Regions from separate parts of the Homo sapiens genome. Here all the other regions are linked to region 3. Evidence: fine-mapped expression QTL. A gene starts in region 3. Each other region holds a variant in brackets. All regions are shown on one strand. Distances are between the middles of the regions. Region 1 overlaps TTC17 (tetratricopeptide repeat domain 17). Region 2 overlaps TTC17 (tetratricopeptide repeat domain 17). Region 3 holds the start of TTC17 (tetratricopeptide repeat domain 17). Region 4 overlaps TTC17 (tetratricopeptide repeat domain 17).

Evidence for each region. PIP is the estimated chance that this variant, and not a neighbour inherited with it, causes the effect. A credible set is the group of variants that fine-mapping cannot tell apart.
Region 1: its variant is the best candidate, but not a certain one, in a credible set for the expression of TTC17 in whole blood (INTERVAL, PIP 0.50).
Region 2: its variant is the best candidate, but not a certain one, in a credible set for the expression of TTC17 in esophagus muscle (GTEx, PIP 0.56).
Region 4: its variant is the best candidate, but not a certain one, in a credible set for the expression of TTC17 in whole blood (TOPMed, PIP 0.80).

Annotation. Positions count from the first base shown.
Region 1 is chr11:43,403,671-43,408,825 of GRCh38, reverse strand. TTC17 (tetratricopeptide repeat domain 17) reads right to left here. Exons shown (of 24, transcript NM_018259.6): 11 at 4,682-4,828; 12 at 3,197-3,312; 13 at 2,875-3,040; 14 at 1,611-1,688; 15 at 1,249-1,473. Among named protein-coding and RNA genes, the nearest start is that of TTC17, 47 kb to the right of the region's middle. The variant C/T (reference allele first, on the strand shown) is at 3,108.
Region 2 is chr11:43,481,070-43,486,224 of GRCh38, reverse strand. All of the region lies in intron 21 of TTC17 (tetratricopeptide repeat domain 17), which reads right to left. Among named protein-coding and RNA genes, the nearest start is that of MIR670, 76 kb to the left of the region's middle. The variant A/C (reference allele first, on the strand shown) is at 2,068.
Region 3 is chr11:43,356,657-43,361,811 of GRCh38, reverse strand. TTC17 (tetratricopeptide repeat domain 17) reads right to left here and starts at 2,892. Exons shown (of 24, transcript NM_018259.6): 1 at 2,699-2,892. The coding sequence starts at 2,857. RefSeq lists a silencer at 2,554-2,633 and an enhancer at 2,764-3,033.
Region 4 is chr11:43,461,709-43,466,863 of GRCh38, reverse strand. All of the region lies in intron 21 of TTC17 (tetratricopeptide repeat domain 17), which reads right to left. It also overlaps the pseudogene PPIAP41. Among named protein-coding and RNA genes, the nearest start is that of MIR670, 95 kb to the left of the region's middle. The variant T/A (reference allele first, on the strand shown) is at 2,371.

The DNA of each region.
Region 1 (5,155 bases), 47 kb before region 3:
AGGCTGCAGTGAGCCGTGACCACGCCACTGCACTCCAGCCTGGGCAACAGAGCAAGAACCTGTCTCAAAGAAAAAAAAAAGGTATATTTTTGGGGTACCCACCCTGATCCATTAATTTATCTTTTTATTCTTATTGTAGCACCATGGTATTTAACAACTAAAATTTTAGTATGATTTTAAAATATCAAAAGGTAACTGATCACTAAAGGAGGTCTTTTTTCTTCAGAAGAATACTACCTAAGTCCCTTGGCTGAAAACAGTAAAAAGGGAATCATGAAAAGTTTCAAGGGAATACGGCTGCATTGCGCTTTCCATTGCCCACTTTATCACATCTGTTCCCACTGTACCAGCACCTGGTACACAGTAAGCACTAGATAAATATTTGATGTACTTCTCTGGCAATGTGACCTGTTACATAATATTGAGATTGTAAACTTCTGCTTAAAATCCAGTTGTGAATTTCTGTATTTCAAAAGAAAACAGGCAATATTTTCTTCTCATCCTTAAAAAATCAGTTTTCAGACACCATAAATAAACCTCAACCATTCATGCACATCCCTTCTGAAGGTTTCTTTGAATACAAAACCTATAAACATTTAGACATTAGGTATAAAATCAATTTAATTGTATATTTATTATAACTGAATTTCATGAAACCTAAAATGACAGCAATTATAACATCCATCCTGATATCAGAGATGTTAAAATATGAAAAACCAAAGTTGTATCTTCAAAACCATGAACTACAAAGCACTGATGTAACTCCATAAGCTGCATGTGAGAGGTTTGGGGCATGAAAATCAATGTATCTATTTATTCTTATCAAAACCACCTTTGAACTGTCCTCTGGCTTGAAGGGTATAAATATTTCTATAAATTAAAGTTGTAAAACAGTGTAATATTAAGCAGTGTGCATGCTGTGATGAGTAGGATAAAATACAAACCAGATGTTTCAGACAGACATAAAAAAGCGGCAGTATATTTTTACAGCTTATGTTATTCTTATTTAAATGTAAGTTTCCAAAAAAAAAAAAACTTAACTGTGTAATTATAAATTTCACTCAAAATTTAAAGAACACATCAAAATACAACAAAAGCTTTTTCACACTCTCTTGAAATAATGCAAACGCTACTGTGAAAGACAAAACATGACATTTTTTATGCTTTCCCTAGAAAAATACAAATTGTAATCTAAATTTGAGTTACCCTACATAGTATACGGAACTATGAAATCCCTTAAAACCTCACCTCAGAGCTATTGATGGCCAAAGCTTGAAGTAGCAGCTTAGTGGCATCAAGATGAAGGCCGTAATGAATCAAAAGGTTGGCCAAGTTGACAAGAGGAACATCTTGGTATTGAAGTGGAGCTAAATTCAAAGCCCTCTGAAGACAGGCAATAGCAAAAGTGCTATTTCCTACTGCTCTCCAGTATAGTCCAGCTTCATTGAGTATGAGCCAGATAGGAGCATTTGGCTGAAAAATCCAAAAATACTTCAGTTAGTACAAGAATACAGTACTTGTTCTAAATAAGATTTTTAATAAGTGCATTTTAACTTTTACTTATAATTAAGAAGCATTTAAGTTTTAGATGTCTAAAGTAAATGACTCACCTTATTAATAGCATGAAATAAGAAAGACCCAATTTCTTCTTCTGGGATAGTATAGTTATTAATACGGGAAAGCAAAATCTGAAACATCAAAAGGAAGACTGACTCAATTGAAAATAACAGGGAAGACATTTGAAAAGAATTTCTATAGATGGCAGTCTTTTCTTAAGCTCCTCAGGAACAGCTAATTTGAACAAATATTTATGATCATATATATGACATAAATTCATTCACATACCAACAGGTGTTGACCTGCTCACATGTATGTAATAGTTTAACTAAAAAGTTAAAAAGACATATATACCCCCACACATTAAAGTAACCTACCATACCCCATTAAAGTCAGCCTAAGTGTTCAGAACCCAAGAAGAAATTATTCAAAAGACAACAGCATGCAATATCTGATGTAATAAAAATCTACTGTCTTTCCTTCCTGGAAAATACCAGATACTCAATTATTCTACTTCATGTTCCTGCAGCATTTATATAACGGTAAACAACTCTAAGGCACAGATCATGGTCTGTTTATCTTTTTGTATTCCTAGCATCCAAAACAATGTCTGGCACATAATGTTTTTTGCCTAAGGAAATGTCTATTGAATATAAGTAACAGTAAGTGCCTATAGTTTTGAAATTAACTTAAAAAAAAAAAGGTGGTTGTGATGGTCTGTGATTGCTAAAAAGGTAATTTTTTTTTTCATTTTTATCTATGGAATGATATCTAATATGGTAATATACAGTAATAAAACACTCGTAGTTATATATAATTAATAGGAATTTAGGAAAAGAGCATAATTGAACTTCTAATGTTTGCAGAGTCATTATCAAATTAATATAAATTCCTATGGACCTCATATAAGGTCACAGCAGGGTTGATAAGGCCAGAGAGAGATTCTTCAAGCTTTCAATTTATATACACTTCTGGAGGCCTGGAGGATGCAAAGCTAACTTTTAGTGGTTGCAATGGCCTGCATTACACCAACTCCATTAGATAACAGAGAGTTCTGTGCTACTCATCTTTGAAGTGCTCTGCGTTAGAGGAATAGTGTTTAGGTGATCTACGTATAGCAGCCCCGAGGAACTCTCTGGCACTCCTTTAATAGCATGACTGACTTCGCCATCATTTCACCAATTCTTTAACTCTATCCTTCCATTTTATACACTTAAAGCTCAACAGCTACCTTCTATCAATTTTTTGTTCCATTTAAGAGGCTTCTGAAGTCACCCAGAATGGACGGCAATAAATACCAGCCTAAGTGAGCCTTACTTTTCGTGCATGGTCATCTGGCATTTTGGCTTTCAGATCCATGCGAACCTCTAATTCTTTGACTAAGTAGGACAGAGTGTGGCTTTTTCTGAAGTCAGTTATGGAACAGTCAGGGGTTTGGGCCTCTTCTTCTGTAGAATAATCATCACTGCTGAGTTCGTGGATCCTGGCACAAGAAAAAGGAACAAGATTCATATTTTCAAAGTTTGGGTGACTTCAAGATAAAGACTTAA[C/T]TTTTCAAGTCCAAGGCTGGTGCTCTCAAAGAACCGCTAGATGACAATCATGCAGAATCAGGTGCTTTGCCAAATCCATCACCACTTGCCTGAGTCCTTTGTTTTCCGGAGGCAGAAAATACGTTGGCAATTCCCCACCAACAGGGACTCTAGGGTAGCTTTCTGTACAATCTGCTCTTTTAGGCCATAGAATATGCTGTTTGTCCTGATAAAGAAACAAAATTTCTCATAAATTTCTTTGGATTCAATATTTCAATATGCTAAATAAACTTTTAAAATGATATACTACAATAATTGAACAAAACTATAATATCTTAAGATTATGGTAGACTCTATAATATTCCTGCTACTGCAGATTATTAATCTAAGTCAGTAATTCTACCTGCTTTACCACAGACTGGTTCAGGGTTGGGCGGGTATAAGCCAGTTGAGCCAGTGAGACACAAGAAGAGGCTTGCTTGGGGCTTTTCGGAAAGAGAAGCAAGTCTTAGGCTCTTACGTTACATATGAACAAAAAATCATGTTGTTCCAGTTGCTGCTGGCTGTCATGACCATGAAAAAAACCAAGCTTTTGGATGAAACCAATACTGTGGATGGCAGAGTGAAGAAAAAAAAAAAAAAAAAGAAAAAGAAGAAATGGGTCACTGATGACATCACTGGGCCACTGAATCAACCAAACCTGAAGTTTATCCTATTTCTGGACTTCCTGTAGTAACAGGCACATTTTCTTTGTATTTAATTTGAGGTGGAGCTTATGACTTGTACCTGAAAGCATACATAAGCCTATAAAACCTGGCATTGAACACTACTTTTCCCTGAACTAAGGTCTTTTCTTTGCCAATGCCAAAGTTTAACAATTGTTTTATGATTTGTAAAATGTTAATTTTCTCTAAAAATAAATAAGATGTACCAGAGGCTTACTAAACTTAAATCTTCAAGCTATCAAACTTTGAGGGATTTATATTAAATATAATTAAATCTAAGTGGCTGTTTAATTCTGTTAAACCCTTGATTAAATTCTGAAAATTTAATGGTGAATAAAAAGCACACAGTCTCTGTCCTCATACCTTGGTATCCGCCTCAGCTAACCTACAATTCTTTCTTAGCTAGTCTAGACAGGCACATGTACTAACTTGTTTATTGTCTGTATCATCTACCAGAATGTAGGCTCCAGAAGAGCAAGGGGGCTTATCTATTATACTGCCAGCATTAGCCTGGCACACAGGTGGGAGTTCAATAAAAGAATGCCGATTAAGTGAAGTATATAAAAACATACGCTTGGGTCAAGTTTAGAAACTTGTTAAGGTTGGTAATAATACTCAGAGGATAAAGCTTTGAACTGAAATCAGGGTGTCTATCTGCTCTACTTGACTGGGAAAAACTCAAGGCAGAAATTGCATCTTACTCATTCACTACCTAGCAGAATAGCTTCCATTTAATAGAAATGTACTACACGTTTGCTGAACTAATCTGAACAGTCATAGAGGCCATATTAATCAGTGAGGTTGAGGGCCACTGCTTTAATGGATCTTGCCAGTTTGAGAAAACTGCTTCGTCATCCTCTATTAACTTACCCTATATGCATCAGAGTCCCTGCCCCAAATCCAGAGAATAGAATGGGCTACGGGAGAAGACTTGACCGAATCATTGATATCACTCTGATTTGATTGAACATCAAAGTTCACAGACATCATACTGGAGGTTGATGAATCCTCACCAAACTAGAAAATGAAACAAAAAGTTCAATCAAATTGAAAGTGGAAAAGGAGTTGTGATTATAATTTAACTCACACCAAAAAAGCGAGTGAATATTCAAAATTAGTAGAAAATCAGAAAGTAGCTCAGTAATAAAGCAATTGGATCTTTTAAGAACTATGCCCCAACGATATTCTTTCATGGATAATACATAGTTAACAACTTTCAATAACTTTGCCATTGGAGTATGAGAAAAATGGCATAGGTCGTTTTCCTGTCCCTTTGCTTCATTTTTATGATTTAGTCTCTTTAGGTTAATAATTAGCTAATTGAGAAATCTGGTTCATTATTCC
Region 2 (5,155 bases), 120 kb before region 3:
ATTTTTGGACCATAATAGACTGTGGATAACTGAAACCGTGGAAAATGAAGCTGCAAATAAGGGGGGGACTATGGCGTATTGTATGCAGACTTGACAAACTTGGGGCTTTTTATTCAACATTATATTTCTAAGATTCATTCATGTTGTGTTTATTCAGTTTCCTTGCTGCACAATTAAATGCTCATTAAGTTGAATATACTACATGGTATTTATCCATTTTCTGTAGATGGGCATTTAGATTGCTTCCTGGTTGTCTCCTGTTATAGTCTAGAGTAGATACCAAGGAGTAGAATTTCTGGGCCACGGGATATGCATATGTTCAAAAAAAAAAAAAAAAAAAACAAAAAACCAAGAGATTGCCAAATTGTTTCCCAAAGGTGCCATGCCAACATACAACCCCATTCACATTGTTTAAAAGGACCTCTTGATCCATGTCCTTCCTAACCCTAGGTACTGTTGGTGAGGGGAAAATGGCATCTTCCTGTGGTATTACTTTGCATTTCCTGATCACTAGTGAGATTGAGAATTGTTTCTCATATTTATTCATCACACATATCACTTCTGTGAAATGCCTGTTAATATCTTTAATGCATTTTTCTATTTTATTACTTTTCATCAATTTATATGTTTTGTATATTAATCTTTTGTAGATTAAATGTGTTGCACATGTTTTCTCCCTGGCCTGCCTTTCTTTAATTAAAACAATTAAACTTTAATATACTTTAATTCATTAACATTTTCTTTTATAGTTATTTTGTGTCTCCTTTAAGAAGAAAACTTTCCTTACTCCATAGCCAGAAAGGTCATCTCCTACATTTTACTCTAAGTTTTAACATTTTGTTTTTGATACTTGAGCCCTTAATTCATGTGGAATTGAATTTTTGTGTAAGATATGAAGATTGAAATTAAGTAAGCAATTGCCCCAGTACAGTTCCTGAATAGTCCCTTCTCTTCCCACCAATTTTCAATATTACTTTTTTAATATATCACAGTTCTGTATGTTAGAGCAGAGGTCCCCAACCTTTTTGGCACCAGGGACCAGTTTCATGGAAGACAAATTTACCATGGATGGGGTAGGGGGTGGTTTTGGGATGATTCGAGTGCATTACATTTATCGTGCACTTTATTTCTATTATTATTACACTGTGAAATAATTATACAACTCACCATAATGTAGAATCAGTGGGAGCCCTGAGCTTGTTTTCCTGCAACTAGATGGTCCCATCTGGGAGTGATGGGAGACAGTGACAGATCATCAGGCATTAGATTCTCATAAGGAACTTCCGTGCAACCTAGATCCCTCGCATGTACAGCTCAGGCAGTAATGCGAGCGATGGGGAGTGGCTGTAAATAGAGATGAAGTTCACCTGCCACTCACCTTCTGCTGTGTAGCCCAATTCCTAACAGGCCACAGACCAGTACCCATCCGTGGCCTGGGAGTTGGACCCCTGTATTCGAGTCTATTTCTGGCCTTCCTATTTAGTCTTCCTAGCCATTTTTATTTATGCTTGAGCAAACAGCATAATGTCTTGTTTTATCAAAAAAGTAAGGCAACTCTCACTTTATTTTTCTTTTCAAGAGTGTCAGGTCTATTCTTCATGATTTACCTTTCCATATAAAGACCTGCTTTTCAAGTGCCATAAAAAAACCCTGCTGGTACTTTGATTATAATAGCATTGACTCTATAAATCAAATTGAGGAAAACTGACATGTTTATAACATGTGTCTTCTTATCCATGAACATTATATATCTATTTATTTAGATTGTTTAAAATGGTTTTTAATAGAAGTTTTATCTCTTGCTGCACGGAGGTCTTGATAACTTTTGTAAGATTTATTGAGAACTTTATATTTTTATAACGATGTATATTTTTAAAAATTACACTTTTAAATTTTGTGCTGCTGTACAGAAATGCAACTTTTTATTTATTGAGTTTACGGGAAGCCACTTTGAGAAAAATATTATTTCTAAAAAACTGTGGAGTCTTTGGGGTTTACTATACAGATAATCATATCACCTCTGAATGACATTTTGTTTTTTCTTCTTTACACTTATGCCATTAATTT[A/C]TTTCTTTCTTTTTTTGAGATGGAGTCTCGCTCTCTCGCCCAGGCTGGAGTACAGTGACACAATCTCGGCTCACTGCAACCTCCGCCTCCTGGGTTCAAGTGATTCTTCTGCCTCAGCCTCCTGAATAGCTGGGATTACAGGGCTGCACCACCACGCCTGGCTAATTTTTGCATTTTTAGTAGGGAGGAGGTTTCACTGTGTTGACCAGGCTGGTCCTGAAATCCTGATTTCAAGTGATCTGCCCACTTCGGCCTCCCAAAATGCTGGGATTACAGGCGTGAGCCACTGCGCCCAGCCTAATTTCTTTTTATTGATTTACTATACTTGCTAGGAGTTTCAGTACAAGGTTGAAAAGAAGTGGTGATAGTCTGCATTCTTTTTCTTGATTTCAAGTAATTATTTTTCATATTTCCTCAGTAAGAATCATCTTTGAAGTAGATGTTTTGTTGATTATTTTCACCACATTAAGGAATTTACTAAGTTTTACATTATAAATGGGTATGAATTGTATCAAATGCAATCTACTGAAATGATTTCATAGTTTTTTTCCTTTAATTTGGTGACTCAAATTTTGCGTTTTCCTAGAGTTAGACCATTTTCAGTATTTCTGGGATAAACCCAATTTGGTCAAGGTATATCTCTTTTTAAAGAAATGTGCTGCTGGATTCAGTCTGTTAACATTTTGCTTATGATTTTGATTTTGATACCTAAGTTCATGAGTGAGATTAGTGCTAACTTAAAAATTATATATGACAACATATATAAATATATATTATTTTTCTTTCTCATAATGTCTGGTTTTGTTTTAAAGTTTATACCCGTCTCAAGGAATTAACTGGTATGTCATTCCTTATTCTAATGTCTGGAAGTCTGTTTATATTAGGATGAGGTATTTCTCAAAAGTTTGTAGAATTCACACTTGCAAAATCAACAGACCTTGTTGTAATCTTTGTGAGAAGATTTTTTAAAAACTTACTACTTAATTTATTTGAGAATTATGAGATTCTTCAGGTTTTCTTTTTGTTCTTGAATCAGTTTAATACATTACATTTTTCTAAGAAATTGTCTACCTGTTTTCAAATTTATTGGCATAAAGTTGCAATTATATGCTTTTCTTATCCCTTAATTTGATATAACCATAGTTTTGTTTTGCCCTTTTTCTTGATATTGAGAATTTGTACTTTCTTTTTATCTTAATTTTGCCAAAAGTTTATTTTACTACTTGTTTCAAAGAAACAACTTTTGGATTGTTCATCTTCTCTATTATATCTTTGTTTTCTATTTCATTGATTTCTACATCTAGTAACAGAACTTAGAAATACACAAATCGAAAACTTACAGGACTAAAATAAGATACAAGCAAATTCATAATTATTAATATAGTTGAATTAGCCTCTCAATAACTTATAGAAGACCAGAAAAATCAGTAAAGAAAATATAAACAATACTATCAGGAGCTTAACCTAACTGATATTTCTAAAATGCTCTACCTAACAAAAGCAGAAGACAATATTCCTTTCTAGTGCACATGAAGCATTAACCAAGATAGGCCACATTCTGGCCCATAAAACAAGCTTGAATAAGCTGAAAAGAATTCAAATCATACAAAGTATGTTCATTTACTACAATGGAGTTAAACTAGCTATCAATTAAAGAAAGATATCTAGAAAACACCCAAATAGTTGGAAACTAAATATCATACTCCTAAATAACTCATGGGTCAAAAAAATTAGAAGGAAAATTATAAAGTACTTTGAATTGAATGAAAATGAAAATATGACAAGTTAAATTTGTCATAAATTTACAGGAAACTTTTAGCATTGAACATCTACATTAGAAAAGAAGACAGGGATCAAGTCAATAATACAAGCTTATATTAAAAGCCTAAAAAAAAAAAACTATTAAAAACCTAAAAAATGAAAAGCAAATTAAATCCTAAGCAAGCGGAAGACAAGGAAATTACAAAGATAAGAGCAGACATAAATGAAAGAGAAAACAAAAAGATGGTGGAAAGTCAGTGGATCCTCAAACTGATTATTTAAGATCAATAAAATGGCCAAGCATGGTGGCTGTAATCCCAGCACTTTGGGAGGCCGAGGTGGGTGGATCACTGGAGCTCAGGAGTTTGAGACTGACCTGGGCAACATGGTGAAACCTCATCTCTACTAAAAATACAAAAATTAGCCAGGCATGGTGGTGCAAGCCTGTAACCCCAGCTACTCAGAAGGCTGAGGCACGAGAATCACTTGAACCCAGGAGGCAGAGGCTGCACTGAGCTGAGATCGCACCACTGCACTCCAGCCTGGGCGACAGAGCGAGACTCTGTCCCCCTATTCCCCAACAACAAAAAAAATCAATAAAATTCATAAACTTCTAGCGAGTCTGATCAGAAAAAAAGAGATAAGATACAAAGTACCAATATCAGGATTAAGAGAGGGTCCATTACTACAGATCCTACAGATAGTAAAAGGATGATAAGAAAATAATATGAAGAACTTTCTGCCAATAAACAATTTAGATGAAATAAACAAATCCCTTGAAAGACACAATTACCAAAGATCACCAGAGAAGAAAGAGATAATTTGAATAGCCCTAGATCTATTAAAGATATTAGAGCTATAATTAAAAACCTCCCACAAAGAGAACTCTAGGACCAGATGGCTTCACTGGCAAATTCTATCAAATATTAAGGAATTCTCTACAGACTTTTTCAGAAAACTAAAGTGAAGGAAACACCTCCAACTCATTAAACAAGGTCATTATTATCCTGATACCAAAACTTCACAAAAACATAATAAAAAAAACCACAGACCAATATCCCTCATGAACATAAACACAGGTACAAACTGACTGACTTATGCATAATGGAGAAGAGTGTTTATGTTGACAGATTTGCAATTTCTAACTGTACATCTATCTTTCTTTTGTTTGCTTTACATATTTTGAGGGTATTTTACTGAATATGTGTAAGTTTAGAACTGGTATATCTTTCTGGTGAATGAAACATTTTATCATTATGTAGTCATTCTCTCTACTCCTAATAATTATTGTTTTGAAATATATGTTTTTCAGGTAATTAATATAACT
Region 3 (5,155 bases):
TTAGCCCTTTGCCTGGTAGTAGGTCACTTTAAAACTGAAATCACACTTATGCTCTCATTCAAATATTGTAACCAAGAATAAGCAGCAAGAATTTGGTATGTCAGGACAAAGTATACAGATGGTCCCCACCTTTCGATGGTTCAACTTATAATTTCTTGACTTTACAATGCTGCAAAAGTGACATGCATTTGGTAGCAACTGTACTGAGTGCCCATATAACCATTCTGTTTTTCACTTTCAGTGAAGTATTCATGAATTACATGAGGTATTTTGATACTTTATTGTAAAAGATGCTGTTAGATGATTTTGCCCAAATTTGGCTAATGTAAGTATTGTGAGCACGTTTAAGGTAGGTTAGGCTAAGCTACAATGTTTGGTAGGTACATTAAATGCATTTTTGACTTACAGTATTTTCGACTTACAATGAGTTTATCAGCACATAACCCCTTCATAAGCTGAGGAGCATCTGTATATACTAAGCTTTTAATTATGTTTCTGAATGTACAAATCTGCAATATATATGGATTTCATACACTAATGTGATCTTTCAAGTCCTTAAGTACAGTATATACAAATATTATAATTAATCACGATCTAAATTGATAGTTTGGATTCTACCTGCATACAAATTATGGCCAGGAAGGGAAGCATGGGTCATGCACAATCAGCTATCAGAGTGGAACTCGGCAGCTCACCACAGCACCCAATTCTTTTACTTTATTTATATGTGGTGCCTTTTCTTCAGATTAAATCCAACTTTCCTCCCCTGGCCTCTTATTGTTACACTGCAGACACCAACCTTATTTCTTCTGGCATAAAATCTTGTGGCTGCCTGAACATAACATTGTAAATGTTATGTATAGCAAAGTATTGGAAAATTCAATGAAAAGGATCACTTAAAAAGTCATGTAATAGAGAAATCTTGCTTTTTAAACTTTAAGCCTAATTACTTAGCTCAGCAGTGACTTGGCAGAGATCCAAAAGATTCTTCAGCTCTTCCCTGCTTCTCTGAGGCAAGTTTCCAGTAACCCCTGCCTTCCCCCATTAATACATATGTATCCAAAGTGCAAAAAGAAGGAATTTGTTAAAAAAAAAAAAAAAATCAGACTCTACTTTCCCATTGCAATGTTAAGTATATACATAAAACATTTCTACCAGCTTTCACTTTTTAGATGGGCTACTTTTTCAGCTGAGTGGTAGGACACCAAAATGGGAAGGAGAAGTCAATGTCATAGAGTATAAATAGCTGTGGCCAAAAACAATATTGCAGAAGAGCCAACAGGAGAAAGGCTCCCCAAAATGCAGCAGGAGTGACTTAATTCCACGTCTTCATAGAGACCTCAGGGAAAACCACTATCAAGAAACAAAAGAAGGGTGGAAGCAACCAGCACTCACATATGGTCTTACAGTGTTTTCTTGGGTTTCTGAAACACATACACATATATTTAAAGTCTCAGATAGTATGGCAATGAAAAGGAAACTGTTCTTTATGTATGTCATATAGAAAACGTTACCCAATAGGAACACGGTCTTTTCTTAGATATGCTGAAAACCACTCATGAATACCTAGGCGGATTTTTAGTTATACTTAACTTACTTGAGATAGAATTTGCAATTACATTACACGGCAAATCTAAATCTAAACCTCACCTTAAACGTTGGAATGTGTTCCTATCATGATTCATTACACACAATCCAAAGGACCAGTAATTTCCCACCACACTAGTTAAAACGTTTTAGATCAGTGGGCTAAATTGCATGGGGCACACAATTCACTTTCTAAATGTTTGCTAGACACTTCAAGATTGTCCTCAAGTGTTCGAAGTCAGTAAGTTTACCAATATTCTGTAGCGGAACACACACACGCACTCGTTAGGCATCAGCAGCATTTACAAAACGCAGGCAATCATAAAGTTATATAAGAAAAGCAGTCTCGCCTCTGAGGAATTAGTTCAGGCATACAAGAATCCAGGAAATCGCATATCCTCCATGCGAGGCTGGGTCACAAGAACTAGGTAAAGAAACAAAGCAAAGTGCACTGGGAAACGAGGGCAGTAACAGCTGAAAAGATGCAGGCAACGCCACCAGCGGCATCTTCAAGCATTCCTTCTGAAGGGGAGTGTTTCTATGTTGTTTCTAATGAGCCACTGCTGACCTGAGTAACGGTACAAGCTGAAACCAACACAACCAGAAACGAAATCCACCATGTGGTAGACGAGACTAGGGGAGCAGCACGAATGGTCCACAGGCTAGGGGTCCAGAAGCTGTCATACCATGGGACTCGCGCACACCCTGGAGCTGCCACCTGCTTTCTATTTCCTCGGGGAGGGCCGGTGACGCGTGAACCCGAGAGGCACCAAAGGCAGGAATCCTGAAATCTGTGATTTCTAAACCCCGAGCTAAAAAAAGGTCCGTAGGGCCCGTCTCCCGCAGCTGGGCGACTCTTCCCCACGCGGCGCGCGGCCCGCGAGGTGGAAGGGTGAGAACTTCTAGGGGGCCAAACGAGGACCAGGAGACAAGTGGGGAGCGGGAAGTGCCTGCCTGGTCCGAATGCAGGGAGTCCGAGGTCGCGGTGCCACCTCCCTGTGAGGGTAGGCTGGGGGCGGGGCCGCGCGGAGCCCAACAGCCAGGGGCCAAGCAGGGTAATCCCCCCGGGGCGAGGGCGGGCACGGGAGAAGAGGGACGCCCCGGCCGCTACCTGCTGCTGGATTTTCCCGTCCTCCGTGACGACCCAGTGCGTGGTGGCGAAGGCCCCTCGTGCCGCCACACTCAGCAAGGCGGAAAGGCTGAGGAGCCAGCCTGGGCCGGAGCAAGGCGGCAGCTCGTACCGGCCACGAACCCCTACTGCCGCCGCCATCTTGCCCCCCCGGCCGGGCCGCTCACACCGGAAGCGGAAGCTAGTCTCCGGCGCCCGCCATCTTGAAGAGGTCGGCCCTGGAGGAGGAGCAGGAGGAGGAGCCGAGAGGGCGTAGCTCGCTGACTACCAAGTTTCCTCCACCTCGGTTTTGGCGGCCAGGAAGCGCGACCTTCGGCTACTCTCCCAGCTTGGCTTCAGGGATGGAGACCGCTTTTTAGTTATTGTTTTTCTGTGGGTGATACGATCTCGGAGCGTGGGAACCGGAGGGAGACAAAAGCAGTGGCTTAGGTGGCGCTTAAGCAGAAGTGAAAGGACTCAATTTTATTGTTTTTTAAATCTTTGTTTTTTCGTTTTATTTCTGGTAGATAGTTGGGGAACAAAAGGTGTGCTTTCGAACCACCTATGGGAAGAGAGGTGTTGCTTTTATTCTTAAAGTCTCACAATAGTGGAAGCTTCAGAATGGAGACGGTTGTTAGTTTAGGGCACCGCTGTCCAGTAGCACTATAATGCGAGCCACGTGTGGAATGTAAAATATAGAGGGAAGTAACCCTACTAGTACATTTTATTTAACTCAAAGTACACAAAATATTAATTCAATGTGGTCTGTACAAATCATTGAGATAGTTTAGTTTTTTTTTTTTTAACTAAGTCTTGGAAATCGGCATGTTACACTGACAGCTTATCTAGTCATATTTCAGGGGCTTAATACCCGCATGTGGCTAACGTACTGGTCAGCACAGGTCTAAGCTAGAGGTCTAGGTCTGGAGACCAGAAACATTGGCATCACCTGGGAGCTTTTTAGACCTGCACATTCTCGGCTCTTCTCCCTCTCCCCCGCAACCTGCTGAATCAGACTACATTTTAACAATAGCCTCAGGTGACTGGTATACATATTAAAGTTTGAGAACCACTTTCTTCTAGTGAACCAACAGGCAGGCAGGCAGGCGTCAAGCTTGGCTGCCAGCTTCTTGCTAGATATGTCATTTTAGGTCTTTCAAGATTGCCCTCTGTGTGTGTTATTTAAGGTTGGTATGCTTTTGGTTTTCTCCTTGGGAAAAGAAGGATGAGAATATTGTTTAACCACTTCTCTACACAAGTGTATGCAGGAGAGCAGTTGCTAAGTGTTTAAACACCACGCTATAGAAATGTAGAAACAACCACAGCATTGGTGTTTTTTTTTTCTTCATTCCAGGAACAGCTTTTCTTAAAGGCCTGAAGACTGAACATTCATTTCATTAAAAATATATGGCTTATTTGCTTTTTGCCTGGTACTCTGATAGTCTCTGGGTATGGAAATGTAACCATTGGGCAGTGTGCAATATAGTGAGATATTATTGGCAGGTTAACAATTAAAATACAGGATAATGGGGGTGTATGAATGCATATGTACAGGAGAGAGCAACCAACCAGGTGAAAAAAAGGTTTGGAGCTCAGGTGCTGGTTCAGGCAGAATAATAAGTGAAAAGGTGAAGTTGGCCGGGCGCGGTGGCTCACGCCTGTAATCCCAGCACTTTGGGAGGCCGAGGTGGATGGATCACTGAGGTCAGGAGTTCAAGACTGGCCTGGCCAAGATGGTGAAACCCCGCCTCTACTAAAAATACAAAAATCAGCCGGGCATGGTGGCGGGCACCTGTAATTCCAGCTACTTGGGAGGCTGAGGCAGAGAATTGCTTGAACACGGGAGGCGGGGATTGCAGTGAGCCGAGATCACACCACTGCACTCCAGCCTAAGTGACAGAGCGAGAATCCGTCTCAAGAAACGAAAAGGTGAAGTCAGTGGCATGTTTTAAGAGTTTCTTGGAGTTTAGACATAGGCAATAGGGAGTGTTTCAGAATTTTAAAATAGAGAAGTGGCAAATGATGGAATCCCTTTTGTCTCAGCATCTTATTTTTGGGGCATAGAGGTCAACCCTATTTCTTGTGTATAAAGCTGACATCATCATCATCTAACATTTCTTGAGTGTTTAATACGTACTGGGTCCTGTACATGCATAGTTCCTATTAATCGTCACAACTTACCAAGCTCTGGCTAGTTAAGTAAGTTGGCCAAGATCATATTGCTAAGTGGTAGAGCTCAGGTTTGGACTCAGATCCACCTGACTCTAGATCTGAGAGCCTGAGAATGAATGAATGTTAGTGAGGAATTTGAGAAAGGCCCCAGCATCACATATTTTGCTATCAGCAATTTCTTTGACCTTCACAAGTTAACCTCTAAAGGGGTGGAATTATAGCTTCTATAGCTTTATTATACCACCTATTTTCTGTAGATGATAACTCTTATCTTTTGGGATCCTGTAT
Region 4 (5,155 bases), 110 kb before region 3:
TGCAGTTGGCAATGGCGATCTTGCTTGTCTTGCCATTCCTGGACCCAAAGCATTCCATGGCTTCCACAATATTCATGCCCTCTTTCACCCTGCCAAAGATCACATGCTTGCCATCCCACCATTTGGCCATGGCAGTGCAGATGAAAAACTGGGACTCATTTGTTTTGGGTGCAGCATTTGCCATGGACAAGATGCCAAGACCTGTATGCTTCACAATAAAGTTCTTATCATCAAATTTATCCCCGTAGATGGACTTGCCACCAATGCCATTATGGGGTGTGAAGTCATCACCCTGGCATATAAACTCCGGAATAATTCTGTGAAAGCAGGAACCAAATCCTTTGTCTTTATTGTTCAGAGTGTGAAAGTTTTCTCCTGTCTTTGGAAATTTGTCTGCAAATAGCTGAAAGGAGATGTGTCCTAAGGGCTTGCTGTTGATGGTGATGTTGAAGGGCACAGTCGGGATGACCATGGCCTAGTGACAGGGGGTGTTGGGGGACAGCAGTGTCTGCAAAGCCAGCTGCATCATTTTATATTCCCACCAACAGTGCACAGGTGTTCTAATTTCTACATCCTTGCCAATGCTTATTAATTTTATGTTTTTAATAGTGGCCATCCTAATTGGTGTGACATGATATCTCGTTGTGGTTTGATTTGCATTTTCCTGATGATTTGTGGTATTGAGCATATTTGCATATGCTTGTTGGCTGTTTGCATATCATCTTTGGAGAAATGACCATTCAAGTCCTTTGTATATTTTTTAATTGGGTTATTTTGTTTTTAATTTGTACAAGTTGTTTATATAATTTGGAAATATTAACCCTTTATTAGATGTATGACTTGCAAATATTTTCTCCTAGTCTGTAGGCTGTCTTTTCACTCTGTTAATTGTGTCCTCTGATGCCCAGAAGTTTTAAACTTTAATATAGTCCACTTTGTCTATTTTTACATTTGTTGCCTGTGCTTTTGGTGTCATATCCAAGAAATACATATATTGTCTTAATGCTTTTTTCCTCTGTTTTCTTCCAAGAGTTGTACAGTTTTAGGTCTTACACTTAGGTCTTTGGACCATTTTGAGTTAACTTTTGCCTATGATATAAGGTAAGGGTCCAACTTCATTCTTTTGCATATGAATATACAGTTTCCCTAACACCACTTTTTGAAGAGACCATCTTTTCCCCATTGAATGGTCTTGGTACCCGTGTGGAAAATTATTTGATTATATACATGAGGGTTTATTTTTGGGCTCGCCATTGTCTAATTTGATTTTATACCCATCAATTGAGTTCTTAATTTCAGTTATTGCAATTCTCAGCTCTAGAATATCCATTTGATTCTTTTTATCCCCCACAAGTTCCAATTATCTGGGGGGAAATTTCCCTTTTATTTATTTTCTCCCTGTCTTCTATTTTCTTGAACAATTATCATTGTTATTTCAAGTCCTGGTCTTAACTCCACTGCCTGAATCATCTGTGAGTATATTTCTATTGTCTGCCCTTTCTCTTGGTTTTCAATCCCATCTCTTGAATGTCTAGTATAATTTTACTAAAAGCTTGACATTGTGTCTAAGAAGTTGTAGAACCTCCATATGATGTTATCTTCTAAAGACAGCATTCATACATTCTTTAGCTTGGCAAGTAGACAATAAACTTAATTCAATAGCTGACTGAATTTGGGCTGCTATGACATTGTGTAAAGGCTACAGTTGGCAATGGTGATCTTCTTGCTGGTCTTGCCATTCCTAGAACCAAAGTTCACTTACCCTTAGTTTTGTCCCTTCTTAAAAGGCACCAATCTCCAGACTTTCCAAATGAAATCCCCAGACAGTCACCAAAAGCCTCTTGTCCTCACTGCTGGGTCTTGAACTCTAATACTAGCTTCCTAAAAATGGTTTTTCATAGCTTTCTACTTGGCTTTCTGGTCTCTTGTGCTTTGTAGCTTCAGAATTTGCCAATGTATTGTGAAGGGTACTAGGCTCACATCTCTGTCCTTCCCTTCTCAGCAGGACCTTAGCCTTTCTAGTATCCAATCTTATTTCTCTAGCCCTGCATGACTTTTAAAGGCTGTTGGTTTCTCTGCCCAGATCAGCCTCCTGTATTGTAGCAGATCATTCTCTCTTTAAAAAAAAAAGCTTGCATTTCCATTTTTTTCCTCTTTATAATTCCGTTTGACAATTTTCCATAATTTTCTGCTTTCATTTTCTTTTCTGCTGCATCTAGTCCATTTTTCTAAGATTGTTGACCTTCTTCCTTCCCTGTAAAAGCTCCTTAGAAATTAGGTTTAAAATCCCTTTATCTGTAATATAATTTGAAAATACTGTTCCCAGCTTTTCATTTTGTTCATTGCGCCTGTTTGAAATGCAAGTTTTTT[T/A]AAAAAAAGTTAGTTATTCATCTTTTTCCTTAGTGTGTATGAATTTTGAGTCTATTAGGAAATTTTCCCTACATCCAAGTTACAGGGAAATTCCCATGCATTTTATTTGTACTTGTATGAAGTCATTTTGTTACATTTATTTTAATCTCTGATCCACTTAAAATTTATCTTGGTGTGTAGTAGAAGGAATGGATGTAATTTTTTTTTTTTTTTTGAGATGGAGTCTCACTCTATCGCCCAAGCTGGAGTGCAGCAGCATGATCTCAGCTCACTGCAACCTCTGCCTCCCAGGTTCAAGCGATTCTTCTGCCCCACCCTCCCGAGTACCCGGCATTACAGGCGTGCACCACCACGCCCAGCTAATTTTTTTTTGTATTTTTAGTACAGATGGAGTTTCATCATGTTGGCCAGGCTGGTCTTGAACTCCTGACCTCAGGTGATCCACCCGCCTCAGCCTCCCAAAGTGCTGGGATTATAGGCAGGAGCCACCACGCCCCGTGGAATGGATATAATTTTATCTTTTCCCCTATTTAGCATTAAAACATACATTTCCTTTCACTGATGAGATGCTGCCTTTACAGTATTCGAAATTGCCATATGCAATTAGTCTTTTATTCTTTCCCATTGGTTTGTGCATTCATGCAGCAATATCAAACTACATTAATTAAAGGCTTCATGTATGTTTAATGTCTTCTAGGTTAAATCCTCCTCTTCTCCCACTGTTCTTTTTTTCAGTTTCTCTAATTATTCTTGATTGTTTCTTCTTTGAGATAAACTTAAACAATTATTAATAGCTTGCCTGGCACCAGAAAATAACATGGCATTTTTATTGTTATTGCATTAAAATGACAAACTAACTTAAGAGAACTGATATTATATGATGCTGAGACTTCACATGCAAGAACATGGTTAAGTCTTTCCATTTGTTCAAGCCTAGTTTTGTATTTTTCAGAAGAGTTTTAAATTTTGGAGATTAAAAAAAAAATTGCCTAAGGTATTTTCTTTTAAAATTCTCTTACAACTTCTGTTTTTTTAAATTGTATATATGAAAGCTATTTATTTTTGTATGATATTTTTATTTTGTATGCTATTTTTATTTTGTAAGCTATTTTTATTTTGTATGATTTCTGGCTTAATCTGTATTGGTCAATATCCATTTCCATGCTAAGAAATTTAAATCTTTGGAAATTTGTTAAGGCCTTTTTTATGGCTCAGTCATATGTTAAGTGTTCACATATGATAAATGTTCCTTCCTTGTGCATGTAAAAGAATGAATTTTGGGCCGGGCACGGTGGCTTACAGCTGTAATCCCAGCAATTTGTGAGGCTGAGGCGGGTGGATCATGAGGTCAGGAGTTTGAGACCAGCCTGGCCAATATGGTGAAACCCCGTCTCTATTAAAACATACAAAAATTCCTGGGTGTGGTGGCGCACGCCTGTAGTCCCAGCTACTTGGGAGGCTGAGGCAGGAGAATCACTTGAACCTGGGAGGCAGAGGTTGCAGTGAGCCAAGATAGCACCACTGCACTTCAGCCTGGGCAATAGAGTGAGACTCTGTCTCAAAAAAAAAAAAGAATTTTGTCACTGCTGGATTCAGTGCTTACATATGGCAGCTAGGTTCAGTTTGTAATTGTGGTGTTTTTGGTCTGCTACAATAATAACTGCTATCAGTTATTATAATTTTATTCAAATCTACTTTGATTGGGAATATGTCTATTTCTTCTGCCAGTTATGTCAATGTTTACCTTATATATTTTAGATTATGTTCTTTGGTGCATACAGTTTACAGAACATACCTACCTTGTGAATTAAATCTATATTACTTTCCTATAGCTACTGTGACAAATTAACACATACTTGGTGGTTTAAAACAATAAAAATCTATTCCTTCACAGCTCTTAAGGCAGGAGGTCCAAAATCAATATCATTGGGTCAAAGTCAATGTGTCAGCAGGGCTGTGCTCCCTTCAGAGGATCTAGAGAATCTGTTACTTCCCTCTTCTGGTTTCTCGTGGCTGCTGGCATTCCTTGGCTTGTGGCTGCATAACTCTGCCTCTATTGTCACACAGCCTTCTACTCTTCAGGATTAAGTCTCTGTCTCCTTCTTTATAAGAATACATGTGATTGGCTTTAGGACCCAACTGGATAATCCAGGATAATCGCTCCATCTCCAGATCCTCAATTTTATCTGCAAAGTCCTCTTCTTTCCATACTGTGTATGTATATAGTTTTCACAGGTTCCAGGGATTAGAACGTGGATATCTTTGTAGGGGGGCACTATTCAGCCTGCCACAGATCCCTTTAGTGTTATAAAATATTCCACTTTAACTCCAGTAATGCTTCTTATTATAAAGTTTACTTTTTCTGACAAGGGTATAGTTATATAGCCGTTTTTTTTTTTTTTTTAATCTAGCCTACATTTAATTCTTAAGTTACACAGTCTTCCTCCATGTAACTACTGATGTGCTTGGGTCTATATTCGCCATTGTACTATTTGTGCTCTACTTTTATGTACCTTTATCTTCCCTTGACTTCCTTTGGATTAATCAAATGTTCTACATGATTCCATTTTCCTTCTATTAAGTTACATTTAAAAATAATTTTTAGTTGTTAGCCTAGAGTTTAAAACATGCTTTTTTACTTATTAAGGCCAATGCAAATTATTACTTTTACTACTTGGCTGATACCAATTAAGCCTTAGGACTTTTAAACTCTATTTGCTTCCCTCTCATCATTTAAGTTATTGCTACCATGAATTTTAGATATACAGTACATAAAATTGAAACT